Homo sapiens: one gene and its partners. The protein of the gene in region 1 interacts with the protein of each later gene in a pairwise test. Each region holds a gene or a part of one and is shown in the gene's direction. Other genes may lie near its edges. The genes, in order: FAM168A, PSORS1C1, SS18L1, SMAP2 and EPN3.

Region 1 (3,519 bases):
AGCTTTTGAAAGCCCAAAATGAAAAGTGCCTGGGAGAAATGTGTTGGTGGATTTTTTTTTTCCACAGCCGTGGTTACCTGTGTAGTAGTAATGTGTTTTTGTATCTTTACCTCATTTGATCCTCCCGATATCTTGGTGAGAAGAGAGCAGATGGAGGTATTGATAGACAGAAGCCTTTGTGGAACGAATAGCCCATGAGTTTAGGAGTTGAGTCCCAGATTCAAATCCCAGTTCTACTACTTGAAAGCTGAGTGATTTCAGTCAAGTCATTAAAAACCTTTCAGATGGCCAGGCGTGGTGGCTCACGCCAGTAGTCCCAGCACTTTGGGAGGCCGAGGTGGGTGGATCACTTGAGGTCAGGAGTTTGAGATCAGCCTGGCCAACATGGCAAAACCCCATCTCTACTACAAATACAAAAATTAGCTGGTAGCACGTGCCTGTAATCCCAGCTACTTGGGAGGCTGAGGCAGGAGAATTGCTAGAACTGGGGAGGTGGGCAGTGAGCCACGATTGCGCCATTGCACTCCAGCATAGGCAACAAGAGCGAAACTCTGTCTCAAAACAAACAAACAAAAAACAAACAAAAAACCTTTCATATTTAGTGGTAATGGCTGCAAAACATTGTGAACATAGTTAATACCACTGAATTGTACACTTAACTTTGGTTAAAAAGGTAAAAATACACACACAAAAAAACCTCAAAAACCAAAAAAACTGGCCAGGCATAGTGGCTCACGCCCATAATCCCAGACTTTGGGAGGCTGAGCTGGGAGTATTGCTTGAGCCTAGGAGTTCGAGACCAGTGAGGGCAACATAGGGAGACCCGTCTCCACAAAAAAAAAAAAAAATTTGCTGGGTGTGGTAGCGTATACCTGTAATCCCAGATACTCAGGAGGGAGGTGGGAGGATTGCTTGAGCCAGGGAGGTCAAGGCTGCAGTGAGCCATGATCGTGCTTCCCTGCACTGCAGTCTGGGTTACAGAATGAGACCCTGTCACACAATCAAACTTTCATACTTCACAAGGCTGTCAAGGGGAACAAACCAGTTCATGTCCTGAAAACACTGTACATATATGAAATATCTGTTCACTATTTATTTATTTAATGAATGTCTGCTAAGTGCCAGGGGAAATAAAAATGAACAGAAAGCAGTTGTCAAGGAGCTTTCAGTGTCATGGGAAAGATAGACAAATACGGTGAGAAAAGTGAGGCAAAATGAATGCTATGGTTAAATGTGGGTTTTGAAGTCTGTCTACCACTTACTATTAGCTGTGTGACGTTGGGCACAATGGGCTCATCTGTAAAGTGCGAATAATAGAATTAACATCATAGGATTGTTTTGAGGATTAAATAAGATAATCAATGGAAAGCATTTCACACAATATGTTTTATAGTACACATTAAAAAAATTAGTTGTTGCCTTTATTGTTAGAAAGATAGGCAGAGGCTAGAATGGTGAATAGCCTTGTGTGCCCTACCAATGAGTTCTTAGTATTGTGGTATTTATTAATGAGGTATGATTTTGTTTTATGATCTCATGCATATTTGCATGTTTACAGTCTAGGAACTTTAAACAGTTCTTTAAATGCCAAAGTCCTAAACAGATGTTAGCTGTTAGCTTCCTCATTAATAAAATAAGAAGAAAAATTATGCTCTGAGAGGTTAAATGACTTGTTTAAGGTTACACAGTCAGTGGAAAAGTCTGGGTTACAGCCCCCAAATTCTAATTTGTCATCCCCATTTATATCCTTTTTTTAAATTGTAAAATATGTCATATGTATAAAAGTATATTTAACATAAACCCACAACTTAAAGAATAACAAATTGAAGGCTTTTCTACTTGCTACCCAGCTTAACAAAAAGGAGATTTCTAGTACCTTTAAAGCCTCTTGTGAGGTCCTACTTGATTGAATCTCCCATCTTCTCTCTCCCTCAGAGATAAACAGTTTCCTAAATTTTATGTGAATCATTTCTTTGCTTTTCTTTATACTTTTACCAAATATGTGCATATCCCTAAACAGTATATTTTTTACCTTTGCAACTTTTTATAAATAGAATTATAGGATAAATATTCTTCTGACTTGCTTTATTCTTATTCTTATTTTTTAACTTTTAAAAAAGCTTTATTTCTTCCACCATTAAATAATGTGTGCTCATGATAAAAACTAGAAATTACAAAAAGTAAAAAGAAGCATAAGTATTGTTTTTAGTCCTATTACCCAGTAACACTTTTTTTTTTTTTTGGTAGAGACAGGGTCTCGCTATGTTGTCCTGGTCAAGTGATCCTCCTTCCTCGGCCTCCCAAAGTGCTTACAAATGCAGGCATGTGGCACCATGCCTGGCTGGCAAATGCTTTTTGTAGAAAATATTTTGTGCCACATATGGCCTCTGTTGTTCTTTCTCCTCCCTTCCACTCCCCTTCCTTTTTGTCTCCCCATCTCCCTCCCCGTTCTTCTCCTTCCTGAAGCCCCTCCTCTTGCTTCTCCCCATTCCTTCTTCTCCCTCCCCTTCTCTTTCTCCTCCTTTTATGTGGTTTTAAGAATGTAAAACTCACAGGCCATACAAAAATAGGCCATGGGCGGGCCATAGCTGGCCGACCCCTGGTACGTTAACAGAAATCAACTCAAAGTTGTAAAATATTGAAGAGGAAAGAGACTAAACCAAGTTCATATTTCTTTCTCTATTTTGTTAAATTTACTTCCTTGGACAGTTATGCATATCTTTAGTATTGAAAACAATGGTATAGAATTTTTTTGTCAAATTATGTTTATCTAAAAGTTTAACATTTTATTAAATGAGCCATTATTTTCTGTATGAAGACACTCTGAGAAAACCTCAGTTTATAAAGTTCCAATACACCTCCTCCTCCTGCCAGTTAGGCAGGTGTCTGGGTCCTTTCAGAATATGCCTATTTTATGATGATATAGGTTGTGCTTTTTCTTAGATATAGACATTTTGAAGGAACCCTGAGATGATATATTTTTCACAGTAAACTTCAATCCTTGGCTACTTGAGATTATGATCTTGATTTGCCTTCTGATCATGTCGCTCAAGCTTGACGATTTCTGCTAACTTGTATTTCTTTTCTAGCCTCTGTTTTATAATTTTTCTAAGTATTTTAGTTTTCTAATGTGTCTTCCTCTATCTTTTATTTTGAGTTGATAGCAAATGTCTCTATCAGTAGATAACAGCTATGCTATTTATACTTATGCAAATATAATGGCGCCATTTTATATATAGTTCTTAGGTTGGTCATGTGGCATTATTTTCATTTTAAGGATGAAGAAATTAAGACTCTAAGAGGGTAGCTGGGTGCAGTGGCTCACACCTGTAATCCCAGGATTTTGGGAGGCCAAGGTGGGAAGATCGCTTGAGCCCAGGAGTTCAAGACCAATCTGATCAACATAGTGAGATCCAGTCTCTACAAAAAACAAAAATATTATCTGGATGTGGTGGCGTGCACCTCTGTTCATAGCTATTTTGGAGGCTGAGGTGGGAGGATCACTTGAGCCCAGGAATT
Region 2 (3,519 bases), on another chromosome or scaffold:
TGCAAATTAAACGAGAGCTTAAGCTGTAGAGCATTTACCAACAGTGCCCTATGGCACATGCGCAGTAGAAAGTAGTTGCAATAGTGTGTAGCAAATACTTTGCATCCTAGGTTGGATTCCCCAGAAGCAGGCCCTGAGACAAAGATTCAAGTAAAAGAGATTTATTTAAAACTAATGAGAAGTTGGGCAGGGTGGCTCACGCCTATAATCCCAACACTTTGAGAGGCGGAGGCAGGAGGGTTTCTTGAGCTCAGGAGTTTGAGACCAGGTTGGGCAATATAGTAAGACCCAATCTCTACAAAAAAAATTAGCCAGACGTGGTGGCATGCGCCTGTGATCCAGCTACTTGGGAGGCTTAGGTGGGAGGATCGCTTGGGTCCAGGCTTCAGTGAGCTGTGATCGTGCCACTGTACTCCAGCCTGGGCAACAGAGTGAGAACTGTCTCAAAAATAAATAGGCCAGGCACAGTGGCTCATGCCTGTAATCTCGACACTTTGGGAGGCCAAGGCGGGCAGATCACCTGAGGTCAGGAGTTTGAGACCAGCCTGGCCAACATGGTGAAACCCTGTTTCTACTAAAAATACAAAAATTAGCTGGGCATAGTGGCGCATGCCTGTAATCCCAGCTACTCAGGAAGCAGAGGCAGGAGAATCGCTTGAACTCAGGAGGCGGAGATTGCAGTGGGCTGAGATCACACCACTGCATTCCAGTCTGGGCAACGAGAGGGAGACTCCGTCTCAAAAATTGAATAAATAAATAAATAAATAAATAAAAGTAATGAGGGGACTGGGCATGATGGCTCACACCTGTAATCCCAGTGCTTTGGGAGGCCAAGGCAGGAAGATTGCTTGAGTCCAGGAGTTCCAGACCAGCCTGGGCAACATGGCAAGACATCATTTCTGCAAGAAATTAAAAAATTAGCCCAGTGAGTGGAGTGCATCTATAGTACCAGCTACTCAGAAGGCTGAGGCAGGAGGACCACTTGAGCCCAGGAGGTTGAGACTGCAATGAGTTATGATTGTGCCACTGCACTTTAGCCTGGGTGACAGAGTGAGACCCTGTCTTAAAAAAAAAAAAAAGTAATGAGGGTGGGGAGGAGTGGAAAGGGAGTGGGAAAGTGGGACCCAAGCACATGAGTGGAACCAAGCTAAGTCTCATGGAGGGCTGGGGTACTGACACCTTCATATTTGTCCACCGTTGGTTAAGGTCTGGGGGCGGGCTGGGGGAGTGGGAGGGTGGTGGCATGTGAGGATGTGGGAGAGAAAAATTTCCAAGTGCTTCCAGCTCTCTGCCCCTGGAAAAGGTCCCGGCAGAGGCATAGGCGGGGCTGTTGGGAGTGATTTAGCACTCTGGGAGTCCGTAGGCACAAAAATGGTAAAGGGGTTCAAGAAGAAATGCGTAGAACACAGTCCCTGCCCCACAAGGTTCATGGCCTGGGAAGGGAAGACAGACATGAATAAATCATTGCCATAGGGTGACTGGGGTGAAGGGCGTTGGGGGTCGGGTGGGGTGCGGGAAGGAGTGGTGTAGGCAGAGGCATCCCTGAGGAGAAATGCAGCTGGTTTGGGAGAGGACGGCCATTCCAGACATAGGGAACAGCACACACGAAGGCTGATGCACATACGCGCAAGGGCTGGTCCCTAGAGCTGGTGGTTCTGGCCACGAGAGCTCATCACCTGGGGGCAGCTTTTGTACCTGCACCCTGTATGAGGCTCCGGGTCTGCCCTTCCTGGTCCATCCTCCAGACACACTGCCTGTTCTTCTCTCAGGTCCCGCTCCGGGCCCTCCTCCCAGAAGCCTCCCCTGACTAGTCCAGCTCACCGTGACTCTTCTGAACTCACGGCGTTTACTGCCAAGGCTATTACGTTGGCGCTCGCTCATGTCATTATTAGGAAATATGCATTTTTACTGTCTTTGATGTTATTTAAACTTGCCTGTAAATTCTGTCTCTCTCAATTTTAAGTTCTGAGTAGAAACTACATATTTTTATTATTTATATTCTTATATTCTCCCATGGCACCCGGCATTCGTGGACACATTGAGGAAGTAAGATAATGAATGAATGAATGGGTGAATCCAGTCCAGCTTGGGGCCTATTTAATTCTACTAGGCTCAACCTACAATTCTTATGTGTTCTCAGATTATTCCTAAACCCTAAGCTTAGTTTTGTTTCATTCGGACCACATGTAGTTTTTTTTTGTTTTTTGTTTTCTGAGATGGGGTCTTGCTCTGTCGCCCAGGCTGCAGTGCAGTGGCACGATCTTGGCTCACCGCAACCTCTGCCTCCCAGGTTCAATGGATTCTCCTGCCTCAGCCTCCTGAGAAGCTGGGATTACAGGCGCCCGCCACCATGCCCAGCTAATTTTTTTGTATTTTTAGTAGAGACAGGGATTCACCATGTTGGTGAGGCTGGTCTCGAACTCCTGACCTCAGGTAATCCACCCGCCTCAGCCTCCCAAAGTGCTAGGATTACAGGTGTGAGCCACCACGCCTGATCTCATGTGTAGTTTTTTGGTTTTTTATTTGTTTGTTTTTTTGAGATGGAGTCTCGCTCTGTCGCCCAGGCTGGAGTGCAGTGGCACGATCTCGGCTCACTGCAAGCTCCACCTCCCAGGTTCACGCCATTCTCCTGTCTCAGCCTCCCGAGTAGCTGGGACTACAGGCGCCGGCCACCATGCCCGGCTAATTTTTTTTGTATTTTTTAGTAGAGACTGGGTTTCACCATGTTAGCCAGGATGGTCTCGATCTCCTGACCTCGTGATTCGCCCGCCTTGGCCTCCCGAAGTGCTGGGATTACAGGCGTGAGCCACCGCGCCTGGCCTCTCATATGTAGTTTTTAATGAGAGTTACCACATAAGCAAACTGGGTTCTAAGTGGTGAAATTTAAGGTTATGCAACCTCAGTTTCTTTTAACCCCTCTTCATCCCTAACCCTGGTCGGATACTTGATTGACAGTAGACCATTGGGATCTCTGAGCTCCTGTCCTTCTAACCTGATTGCCTCTTTAAAGGATTTTGAAAAACTATGTCCCTTGCACATTTGTATTGTTTTGAGACACGGTCTCACTCTGTTGCCCAGACTGGAGTGCAGTGGTGCCATCTTGGCTCACTATAGCCTCAACCTCCCAGGGTCAAGCAATCTTCCCACCTCAGCCTCCTGAGTAGCTGGGACTACAGGTGCGGGCCACCACATCTGGCTAATTTCTTAAATTTTCTGTAGAAACAGTTTTGCCATGTTGCCTAGGCTGGTCTCAAACTCCTGGCCACAAGCAATCCACCCGATTCGGCCTCCCGAAGTGCTGGTATTACAGGCATGAGCCACCTTGCCCAGCCCCTTGCACATTTTTAAGTCAACATTTAACATTTGTAATAATTTAATAGCATTCCAAAGGGTATGCTTTTCAAGGAATTGCAAATACATGTTAAAAATCACATCACTATTTATGTATTTATTTATTTATTTATTATTTTTGAGATGGAGTCTCACTCTGTCTCCCAGGCTGGAGTGCAGTGGTGCGAT
Region 3 (3,519 bases), on another chromosome or scaffold:
GGCCTGACCCCGCCCAGGAACGCAGAGCAGCTGCAGGGGCAAGGAGGGCAAGGAGGGCAAGGAGGGTGTGGCCACTGCAGTGTGTCCTCAGTCATTCCAGCTCAGGCCTGGGCTACAGGCAGAGTGGCCAGACGCCCTGCAGGAGCAAGGTAGGGGATGGGGTGAGCTGGGCTGGCAGTGGTGCCTGGCCTCTGCAGAGAGAAGCTGTGGCACACACCGCTGCACTGGCCTCCACGCGGCCTTGCCTCTACTTCCTGAAAGGCTGTGGGAGTTGGAGGCGGATAATTGTAGCTCCTAGCTGTAGATAGGTGGAAATGTTCAAGAAGGCGCCTCCCAGCTTCACAGAGAATGCCCTGAAGGTGACGGCTCCACCTGCAGCACCTCTCCTCCTGCACCTTCTCATCTCTGCAGAGTATTTTACCGTCGTCACCTTTCAGTCTTTGCATAGTCCCAGGGCTTGTGGAAGGGATACTGAAAGTGGTCTTGGCTGAAAACAGCGGTTCACACCTGTCATTCCGGCACTTTGGGAGGCTGAGGCAGGAGGATCGCTTCAGCCCAGGAGGTTGAAGCTGCATTGAGCCATGATCGCACCACCACACTCCAGCCTTGGTGACAGAGCAGGATCCTGTCTCTAAATAAAGTAAAAATAACAATAAAATAAAGTGGTCTTAAAGGCTGGATTGATCCCTGGGAGGCATCCAGGCAGGGAGCTGGCCTCAGCCAGCAAGGGGCAGGTGCACAGACAGGTGGGCAGGTGGCAGCAGGGCAAGCCACCCTGGCCACGTGATGGTCACATGCAGCGAAGGCCTCGGTAAGGGTTGGACACCCCTGCCTGCGTCCTCCCAGGAGCTAGCGGTGGCGGGGAGAAGGCAGTCGGGTCACTAGCATGGCTGTGTGGCAGGCACTGAAAGCGCTGATCCTCTGCATAAATCCCCAGGTAGCTTCACAGTCGCCCCGAGAAGGAGGCATTGATGTCTGCATTTCAGTGGGGAGGCCGAGGCTCAGGAGGTTGGGGCATGGTTTTGGGGAACACGGGTCCTGCCGGCTCTTGTTGCCTCCCTGGCCAGACAACATCTCCCCAGCCTGGGTCTCAGTTGCCTCCTCCGGGACCTGTGCAGTGCACAGCCTCCGCTGACTGTCGCCGTCTCCGTTTCGCACAGGCCATGGCGATTACGCCTACCAGCAGTCATCCTACACGGAGCAGAGCTACGACCGGTCCTTCGAGGAGTCCACGCAGCACTACTATGAGGGGGGTAAGGAGCACGGCTGCGTGCTGGGCTCGAGCGTAAGCGCCACACGCAGCAGAGTTAAGACGCTGCACCCTTAGGAGCACGCGGTGCCTGCCTTCAGTGAGTCCCTTAAATCACAGCACAGCGCGTGGGAGGAGAGACAGTGTGTTCTGGAAGCTGGAAATTCAGGCTGTGTCGGGAGCCCCGCTTGCCTTATGGGTGTGTTCGTGAGACAGGAAAGGATTCAGCCGGCCATGCTGGGGTTGGGGGCACAGACTTGGTTATTGGGTCCAGCCAGGGAGCGTGGGGCCTGCGACAGGAAGGATTCAGCCGGCCATGCTGGGGTTGGGGACACAGACTCTGTTATTGGGTCTGGCCAGGGATCGTGGGGCCTGCGAGCCACTCTCAGAGCTTCCTCAGCTGGAGGCCAGCAGTGGCTGCGCTGGGTGTGGCCTCGCGTTTCTTCAGACACCTGCAGGCCAGGAAACGCACATCTGTGGCTGGGGGCTTGCCGCCCTTCATGGCGGTCCTGGGCAGTGCTGCGCTGGGGGCTGCGTGTCGGGTGGACTTGCCCCTTTCTGTGGTGTCTGTGCCCCCACCCTGGCTGCCCTGAAACCCCAACAGAACATCCCAGAATGTGGAGTTGGGAAGAGGTACACACAGCCCGTTCCAGTCCCACCCCGGGATAAAGATGGCCCCCAGAGAAGAGCTGATGATCGCCTGCGGGATTGCGCAACCTCGTCCGGGAGGGAAGGCGGGCCTGCAGTCCCTGGGGAGAGGGGCCTCGTGTCTGCTGACGCTGACCGGCAGGCAGCAGTGGCTGAGGCCTTCCCACTGCAGGGCTGCAATTTATCAAGAGGTAACAGTGTTGGTGAGGCTTCACCAGGTACACAAAGCAGGCAGGCACTAAACGGCTACAGATTTCCTTGTTTGGGTTACTTCTTAAAGAATTGGATGTGTAAAGGTTTTGCTTCTGAGCTTACACATCTCAGCCTGCTGTGAAGAAATAAAGCACGCAAGTGTAGGCACATATAGAAACATCACGGTGTGCGCTACGAATGCCTGCAACGTTGAAATGTCAGTTACACCTTTGTAAACCTGGGGGAAACAAAAAGTACATGAATACATAATGAAAGTTTAAAAGAAGAAAGAGCCTAGGTGTTGTGGCTCACGCCTATAATCCCAGCACTTTAGGAAGCTGAGGTGGGTGGATCACCTGAGGTCAGGAGTTTGAGACCAGCCTGGCCAACACGGTGAAACCCCGTCTCTACTAAAAATACAAAAATTAGTTGGACGTGGTGGCATGTGCCTGTAATCTGAGCTACTCAAGAGGCTGAGGCAGGAGAATTGCTTGAACCCGGGAGGTGTAGGTTGCAGTGAGCTGAGATCATGCCATTGCACTCCAGCCTGGGCAACAAGAGTGAAACTTTGTCTCAAAAAAAATAAAAAGAAATAAAAAAAAGAAATGGCCAGGCATGGTGGCTTACGCCTGTAATCCCAGCACTTTGGGAGGCCAGTGGAGGAGGATTGCTTGAGCTCAGGAGTTTGTTTGTTTTTTTTTTTTTTTTTTTTTGAGACGGAGTCTCACTCTGTCGCCGAGGCTGGAGTGCAGTGGTATGATCTTGGCTCACTGCCACCTCCGCCTCCCAGGTTCAAGCAATTCTCCTGCCTCAGCCTCTTGAGTAGCTCGGATTACAGGCCCCGCCACCACACCCAGCTAATTTTTGTATTTTCAGTAGAGATGGGGTTTCATCATGTTGGTCAGTCTGGTCTCGAACCCCTGACCTCATGATCCACCTGCCTCAGCCTCCCAAAGTGCTGGGATTACAGGCGTGAGCCACCGCGCCCGGCCGAGCTCAGGAGTTTGAGGCCAGCATGGGCAACATGGCAAAACCCTTTCTCTCCCGAAAAAAAAAAAAAAAATGCCGGGCGTGGTGGCGGGTACCTGTAATCCCAGCTACTCAGGAGGCTGAGGTGGGAGAATCGCTTGAACCCAGAGGCAGAGGTTGCAGTGAGTTGAGATTGCACTACAGCACTCCAGCCTGGGTGACCGAGCCAGACCCTGTCTCAAAACAAAAGCCACCCTGTGGCCAGCACCCAGAGGCTATCTTCTGGCATATTGGCTGCAGTGGTGCCTCCGTAAGCCCTGGGAGTCAGCAGGATCTCTGCCATCATGGGCCTGGCCCTGTCCCTTCCAGCTGGAGCACAGGGTTCAGCCTTGTCCATGGCGAGGTGTCCACATGCGTCTGCCCAAGGCTGCCACACTTTGTCCCAAAAACAAACGCAGGAT
Region 4 (3,519 bases), on another chromosome or scaffold:
TCTTGGGATTTATCCCTCACAAGTGTTAAGGAGTCTACTTAAAAGCCTAATGGGAAACACATTTATTGGAATTGATTAATAGTATAAACTCAGAATGATAACACTGATCATTGCCTGCCAAGTAGACATTTTAATTGGTAGCTGTGTATCTAAGAGTTTCAAATGAGATCTTGATTTATTACTGAATTGAATGTATCTTGGTACACAAATATTTCAGTAAAAGGAACCTATGGAGTGGGGGAAAGACAGCTTGGGGCAAATGATTGGGAAATCCTAGTAAGGTAGAGGGAATCATGAATTGGAAATCAGAATACACAAGTTTAAATGTTGGTTCTGACACTCTCTAGGTTGGTTCTTCAATTGTACAGTAGTGGAATTGGGTGAGAAGTTTTTCAGTTCTTTCTTGATCTGACGTTCCATGTTTCTACATTCTCTTTGGTCACAGTGCATGCAAGAGATGGGAAATGGAAAGGCAAACCGACTTTATGAAGCCTATCTTCCTGAGACCTTTCGGCGACCTCAGATAGACCCGTATCTTTTCTGGAGCAACTTAGAAGGCTGAGTGGTATTTTGATGCTTGGGGAGAGTCAGACAAGACTCCAGTCCTGTAATGTGACTGGGTCATCTCTATGTGGATTAGTCAGTGTCCTTGCTTGTCCTCTGTCCTGCAATCAAGGTGCACAAAAAGCACATGTATTTGTGAATGTCGGAATTGTCATACGGTGTCACTTGAAGAAGACTCACTCTGGAATTAAGACTGCAGTGATTTCACTGTGAATTCTTCTATAAAGTTACATCTCCACTAGTTTATTTTGGATCTCTGAAACTATTGTTTGATTAAAAAGAGTAGTTCATTGTGCTCTGTTAACCCTGGCAGTCAGCAAAATTGCCATTCATTTTTATCATCTTTTTATGTCTTGGGTGAAAGAATTAACTGTTGTTTACCAGTTTGTCAATAACCAATAACTTTCTTCCACCATCTGTTCAACAGAGCATAGCACCTAGGACACAAAACCAAATCCCTTAAAGGCAGTGCTTCTCAAAATGTAGTTTGTAGATCATCTTGTTAAGGTTCTTTTTTTTTTAATGGGTTCAGGTGGAACCTGTTAAATGCAGATTTGGGGCCTTGCAGAAGACCCACTGGTCAGAATTTGGCAGTGGGGCACAAGAGTTTATGTTTTTAAGGGGCACTTACGTGCCTTTGTTTGAGGCCTATTGACCTAAGTGCTTTAAAATAGACATTTGACTGCTTTACCTATATTCTAGAACAGCCACATACAGCCTCTAATGTCAGTTTGAAGGTTAATTCCACTTGCTGCTATCATCACGCTGAAGGGAAAGCATAGGAAGTAATGATTCCCTGCTTTAACTGTGAAAGAGGCATTTTAAGGTTTTGGTCAGAGAAATTGCATATGAAGAGGCAGGAGCCATGTGGGGAAACCAGGCAAGAGGGAAGGAGGAGAACAATGCTCCGTGGAACACAATTGATCTTTTATCTTCTTGCTGTTTGAGAGGCTTGTTGGATTCATCCTTAATAAGCTTTTTGCAGAGCTGTTGAAGGATTTATTCGAGACAAATATGAGAAGAAGAAATACATGGACCGAAGTCTGGACATCAATGCCTTTAGGGTTGGTTATACATCTTTCAAGTTTTGTCCACAATAAGTAATGTGCTTATTAAATCAGGCCAGAGAACACGTTGAAGAACTGCTACCAAAACACTCCAAAACCATCTTTTAAAAAATGCAAAAGTAGACCAGGTGTGGTGGCTCATCCCCTAATCCCATCACTTTGGGAGGCTGAGGTGGGAGGATCACTTGAACCTAGAAGTTTAAGACCAGCCTGGGCAACAAAGAAAGACCCCCATCTCTACAAAAAATTTAAAAATTAGCCAGGCATGGTGGTATACATGCCTGTAATAACCAGCTACTTGGGAGGCTGAGGTCGGAGGATTACGTGAGCCAGGGAGGTTGAGGCTGCAGTGAGCTGTGATTGCACCACTTCATTCCAGTCTAGGCAACGGAGTTTGACCCTGTCTCAATATAAATTTTTAAGCAAAAGTAAAAAGTGCCAGTTACTGAGTCAAGACCATGAGGCAGAAACAAACTTCTGCCTATCGGTGAATTCTTGCCTTAATCTGTAGTTAGAAGGTGTTAGTGATGATTCCCAGTTTTGAATTATTTCTTGGGATGGACATGTTGCATATACTAGATCAAATAAAACAGTATATGTGTATATGTACTACAGCTATATCTATCTACATAGATATATACACACATATATACTTTTTTCCTGTAAATGAAATCAACAAAAGTAGGTGTAATTAAATCACCAGAGTTTCCTTCAGTTTGACCAATGTATATTTCCAGCATTACCTGCTGATAACCAGTGTGTTGGACTGATTGCCAATGGGACCCTTGTTTCTGAGAAGGGTTTCAGAGGGAGACTGGCTACCAGTTGCCAAGAACACATTCCATCCTAGGCATGTTTAGAATCTGCAATACAGTATATGATAACTAGGACAAATATAACACACAGGGGGACAGACAGCATGATTTCTGAAAGAGGAAAATATGCCTAACTAATGACAGCTAATGGAGAACCAATAGATATGACTATTTATACCTTTAAATAACCTTTGACAAGATTCTACAGAAAATTCTCTTAGGAATAATTGGCTATTTATCTAGTCACAGAAGTATTGAGAGTAAGGGATTCTCCACTTCCAGCGCAGGTCCTACCTATCTATCATCTATTCTAGTTATGTAATAATGATATAATAGCCAGTGAAATCACTGTTTGCACTGAGCTCCAAGCCCTTCTGGGTAATTAAAAGTTAAGCTAATTGGAATCCACTTCAGGCTGATCTTATGAAGCTGTGTGAAAGGGGCATTAACTGGTAGGTGAATTTCAACACAGGCAAGTAAGTGTAATACATATAGTTAGGTAAAAATGATTCCTTCTCAACTGTGTATGAAGGACTCTTACCTTGCAGTTATCCAGAAAAGGGACTTGTCAATATCATATCTGTGCCAAGAAAGAACCCAGTGTGCAGCTACAGCTTGCATGGCATCATCAAAAACAGTTTAGAACCCAAGCATACACATTTCGTTTTATTTGTAGAAAACTGTGGTCTGTCTGCCCAGCTCTGTTCATTGTGCCTAAAGATATGAACTCAGATGAGGTCAGAAAAGGGTATCTGAGATAATTCAGATGACGAAGGAGTAGAGTTGCTATTTGTACACAGCTATTGTGGAAACAGCAGCTCTGCCCTCAGGGTATTCATGATTTCATTGCTGGTATACTGTACCCATGAAAGCAAGCCCGGTTACCGGATGTTTCTCTTAGGAAGGAAATAACCTCCCATTTACCAAAAAGCTATTTCAGAATTTGTTATTTAATGTACTTAGATTTTTTTCATATTTTGTGAAGATTTTTATGCCAATAATTAGTATTTGCTAAGTGAAGACGTTTAATATCAAATGAAAAGAAACTGGCTTTGTTAAAAACTATTCTTTTT
Region 5 (3,519 bases), on another chromosome or scaffold:
TGGCATGGTGCCTGGCTCAGAAAAGGCCTCCGGGAAATAGGTGTTGAATGCATCAAACTACAAAAATTAACAATATGAGAAAAGTGAGCTGAGGAGCTAGGAAGGATAGGTCTTAAGCTAGATCTCAGCAGAAACAGAGGCAGTGGCCGAGCAGAAGCAAGGCAAGCGGGCATTCCTGGAATCCTGTTAGCGTTCCCCCATGAGGCCATGCACTCTTAGGTGGGGCTTCCTGGGGTCATCTTGGTTCCCCATGCAGCAGCTCTGTGATCTCGGACAAGTCACTTAATATTACAGGGTCTCGCTCTGTTGCCCAGTGGCCTGACCATGGCTCACTGCAGCCTCCAACTACTGGCCTCAAGTGATCCTCTTGCCTTGGCCTCCTGAAGTCCTGGAATTACAGGCGTGAGCCACTGCACCGGGCCCATTTAATACTCTGAGCCCCACCTTTCCCATCTGTGGATGGAGGTAATGATAATAGCATCTTTGGGGTGTGGCTGTGAAGATAGATAGATGAGCATGCAAAGCTCCAAGTGCCTGCTGAATTGTAAGTGAAATAAGAACGTGTGCCGCTGAAGGCTGTCCCTGGAGGCAGGGACACTCTGGCCAGGCCTCATTTAGTTGGTCAGTGGCTGAGTGACCCATGAGGTAGGCCTCTGCCCCTGAGTTCCTGGCCCTCTCTTCCTCAGCCCCATGTGGAACCCAAGGATGCAGCTGCTCTGCTAACACGGCAGCCCATCCTTCAAGACTGTGACCTCGCCACAGTGGCCCTCAGCCCTCCACCTCCGGCGGGGGCGAGGGCCACCCACCTCCAAGTCTCCAGCCATGACGACCTCCGCACTCCGGCGCCAGGTGAAGAACATCGTGCACAACTACTCCGAGGCAGAAATCAAGGTGCGCGAGGCCACCAGCAATGACCCCTGGGGCCCCCCTAGTTCGCTCATGTCCGAGATCGCTGACCTGACCTTCAACACAGTGGCCTTCACCGAAGTCATGGGCATGCTGTGGCGGCGGCTCAATGACAGCGGCAAGAACTGGCGGCACGTGTACAAGGCTCTAACATTGCTGGACTACCTGCTCAAGACGGGCTCCGAGCGGGTGGCCCACCAGTGCCGCGAGAACCTCTACACCATCCAGACACTCAAGGACTTCCAGTACATCGACCGCGACGGCAAGGACCAGGGCGTCAACGTGCGCGAGAAGGTCAAGCAGGTGATGGCCCTGCTCAAGGATGAGGAGCGGCTGCGGCAGGAGCGAACCCACGCCCTCAAGACCAAGGAGCGCATGGCACTGGAGGGCATCGGCATTGGCAGTGGGCAGCTGGGCTTCAGCCGCCGCTACGGCGAGGACTACAGCCGCTCCCGGGGCTCCCCGTCCTCCTACAACTGTGAGTAAGCCCCGGTGTGTGGCTGGGATGGGGAGGTGGCCCGACTTCCATTCCTGGCTCTGCAATCCAAGCCATGGTTCATAATACCTACCTCCGAGGGGTGTTATGAAGATTCAGACATAAGGAATGTAACACGCAAGGCGCAACACCCGGCACATAGGAGGTGCTCAACAAGTTAGCTCAGATAATAACGTTGTTATAGATTCATTATCATTCGTTAGCTGCCTGATAGGATGGCGCGATAGTGGAAGCATGGGTTTGGAGTCAGATAGCATTCTATATTCTGCTTCCTCCAAGCTGTGTGACCTGGGCAACCAGTTCTCTGAACCTCAGTTTCCTCATCTGTACAGTGGGGATAAGCTCACCTACCTCCATTGTTTGATCTGAGAATGAAATGAGACCAGGTTCAGGAACGTCCTCTACCCTGCACCCAGACACATGGCATTCCCCTTCATCCCCCTACCTGAGGGCAGCGGCTAGACAGTCCCTGACTCTCCTGCCCCCAGTCATGGGGGCTTCCAGGATCTGAGGAATACTCAGAATGGCCCGCCTTCCATAAAGCCCTTGACAGTTTGCTGAGGGCTTTGAGGTTGTGACCTCGTTGGACTAGAACCTCCTATCCTTGCACCTCCCTTGCCCCCAAGCCAGGACAGGGTCCATCTGGAAGTCCAAGAGCTGGAGTCAGGGCACCTGGGTTCAAGTCCTGCTTCAGGAACCTGGTCAGGGGCCCTAAGTGCCGCCTGTGCATCTGCTAAGGAGGGACTGGAGCCGCCCCTCCATCCGGGATGGGTTGGGATGGGGAACTTACAGAGTGCCTGGCACACTGCTTGGCCCACGGGGGCCTCAACGGCCGTTGTTCCCCTCCTCTCAGTTCTCTTGAGCCTCAGCTTCCTGGCAGGCAGAGGGGTGTGGGAGCCGATGGGTAATCGTGTGGTCACAGAGACATGATGGTCATTGCAGCCTCCTCTTCGTCACCCCGCTATACCTCCGACCTGGAGCAGGCCCGGCCTCAGACGTCAGGGGAAGAGGAACTGCAGCTGCAGCTGGCCCTCGCCATGAGCCGTGAGGAGGCAGAGAAGGTGAGGCCATGCAGCCCCACTGCGGTGGGGAGGGGATGGGCTAGGGGGAGAGAGTGCCTGGGAGCCCCTTGGCCTTGACTCAGGCTCTGTCACCCAAAGCCCCAGTCCTGTGCCCAAGGACAGCACAAGACCCATTATCTCTGTCGGTTTGTCGCAGGCAGGGACTGCCTCCCTGCCTCCAGTCCTCTCCACTGGGCCTGGAAAGGGTGGCGAGTGTACAATTAGGGGCACATGCTATGTCTTGGGGTGCCTGCTACCACCTCATGGTGGAGTGGGTGAGTGTGCTCAGACATATTCCTAGGAGACACTGGGATATGCTTCCCACCCCCGCCCACCAGCTATCCTTTTGGGGAGACAAGGACAGGCCCCCGATATCATCATCTTTGCCATTACCTCTGTGGATCCAGGAAGACCAGGCAGGAAGCAGCTGGGCCTCACACAGGAGGGCCTGAGGAACTCTCAGAGGATTCAGAAGCGAAAGATCAGTCTTCCTGACCTTTAAACTGCATTTCAGATGCAGGCAGGGAGAAGGCCACGCCCACCCTGCTGACTGAGCGGCAAATGGCCCATGCACACTGAGGGTGGGCATTAGTGTCTCCATCCCCATGACCCAGGCAGGCCTATACTGCCCTTCTGGTCCCAAGGTGGGGGTACAGGGCCAAGTTTACCCCTCTCTTCCTCCGCAGCCTGTCCCCCCAGCCTCCCACAGGGACGAGGACCTGCAGCTGCAGCTGGCTCTGCGCCTGAGCCGGCAGGAGCACGAGAAGGTAGTGGGCCGAGCCCGCTGGGCTGCCGGTGCTGCTGCTGCTGCTGGTGGAGGTGCTTCAGGGCACTAACAGCCTCCTCCCGCTGTACCCGGTGGCCCTGCTGCTCCTAACCTCTCAGCTGCCTCCCACCCTGCACTCTCTCGACTCCAGCCTCTGGTGCACAGGTCCCCGGATTCCCGCCTGAGCTGCTCATGCTCCTAACTCTTTCTGTGCCTTCTGCAGGAGGTGAGGTCCTGGCAGGGTGATGGCTCCCCCATGGCCAATGGTGCAGGGGCCGTGGTCCACCATC

What was found.
Region 2: the proteins of FAM168A (region 1) and PSORS1C1 interact in a two-hybrid assay, tested with the Homo sapiens proteins (one large-scale study listed by BioGRID and IntAct).
Region 3: the proteins of FAM168A (region 1) and SS18L1 interact in binary tests that used the Homo sapiens proteins (3 or more experiments, as listed by UniProt).
Region 4: the proteins of FAM168A (region 1) and SMAP2 interact in a two-hybrid assay, tested with the Homo sapiens proteins (one large-scale study listed by BioGRID and IntAct).
Region 5: the proteins of FAM168A (region 1) and EPN3 interact in a two-hybrid assay, tested with the Homo sapiens proteins (one large-scale study listed by BioGRID).

What each region holds. Positions count from the first base shown.
Region 1 is NC_000011.10:73,591,596-73,595,114, reverse strand, and holds part of FAM168A (protein FAM168A), read left to right. Parts: intron 1-3,519.
Region 2 is NC_000006.12:31,131,784-31,135,302, forward strand, and holds part of PSORS1C1 (psoriasis susceptibility 1 candidate gene 1 protein), read left to right. Parts: intron 1-3,519.
Region 3 is NC_000020.11:62,164,262-62,167,780, forward strand, and holds part of SS18L1 (calcium-responsive transactivator), read left to right. Parts: intron 1-1,160; coding exon 1,161-1,253; intron 1,254-3,519. UniProt on the Homo sapiens protein: Transcriptional activator which is required for calcium-dependent dendritic growth and branching in cortical neurons. Recruits CREB-binding protein (CREBBP) to nuclear bodies.
Region 4 is NC_000001.11:40,408,208-40,411,726, forward strand, and holds part of SMAP2 (stromal membrane-associated protein 2), read left to right. Parts: intron 1-445; coding exon 446-531; intron 532-1,549; coding exon 1,550-1,628; intron 1,629-3,519.
Region 5 is NC_000017.11:50,535,735-50,539,253, forward strand, and holds part of EPN3 (epsin-3), read left to right. Parts: intron 1-686; 5' UTR 687-822; coding exon 823-1,384; intron 1,385-1,559; exon of another isoform or gene 1,560-1,767; intron 1,768-2,192; exon of another isoform or gene 2,193-2,344; coding exon 2,345-2,463; intron 2,464-2,856; exon of another isoform or gene 2,857-3,020; intron 3,021-3,149; coding exon 3,150-3,230; intron 3,231-3,452; coding exon 3,453-3,519.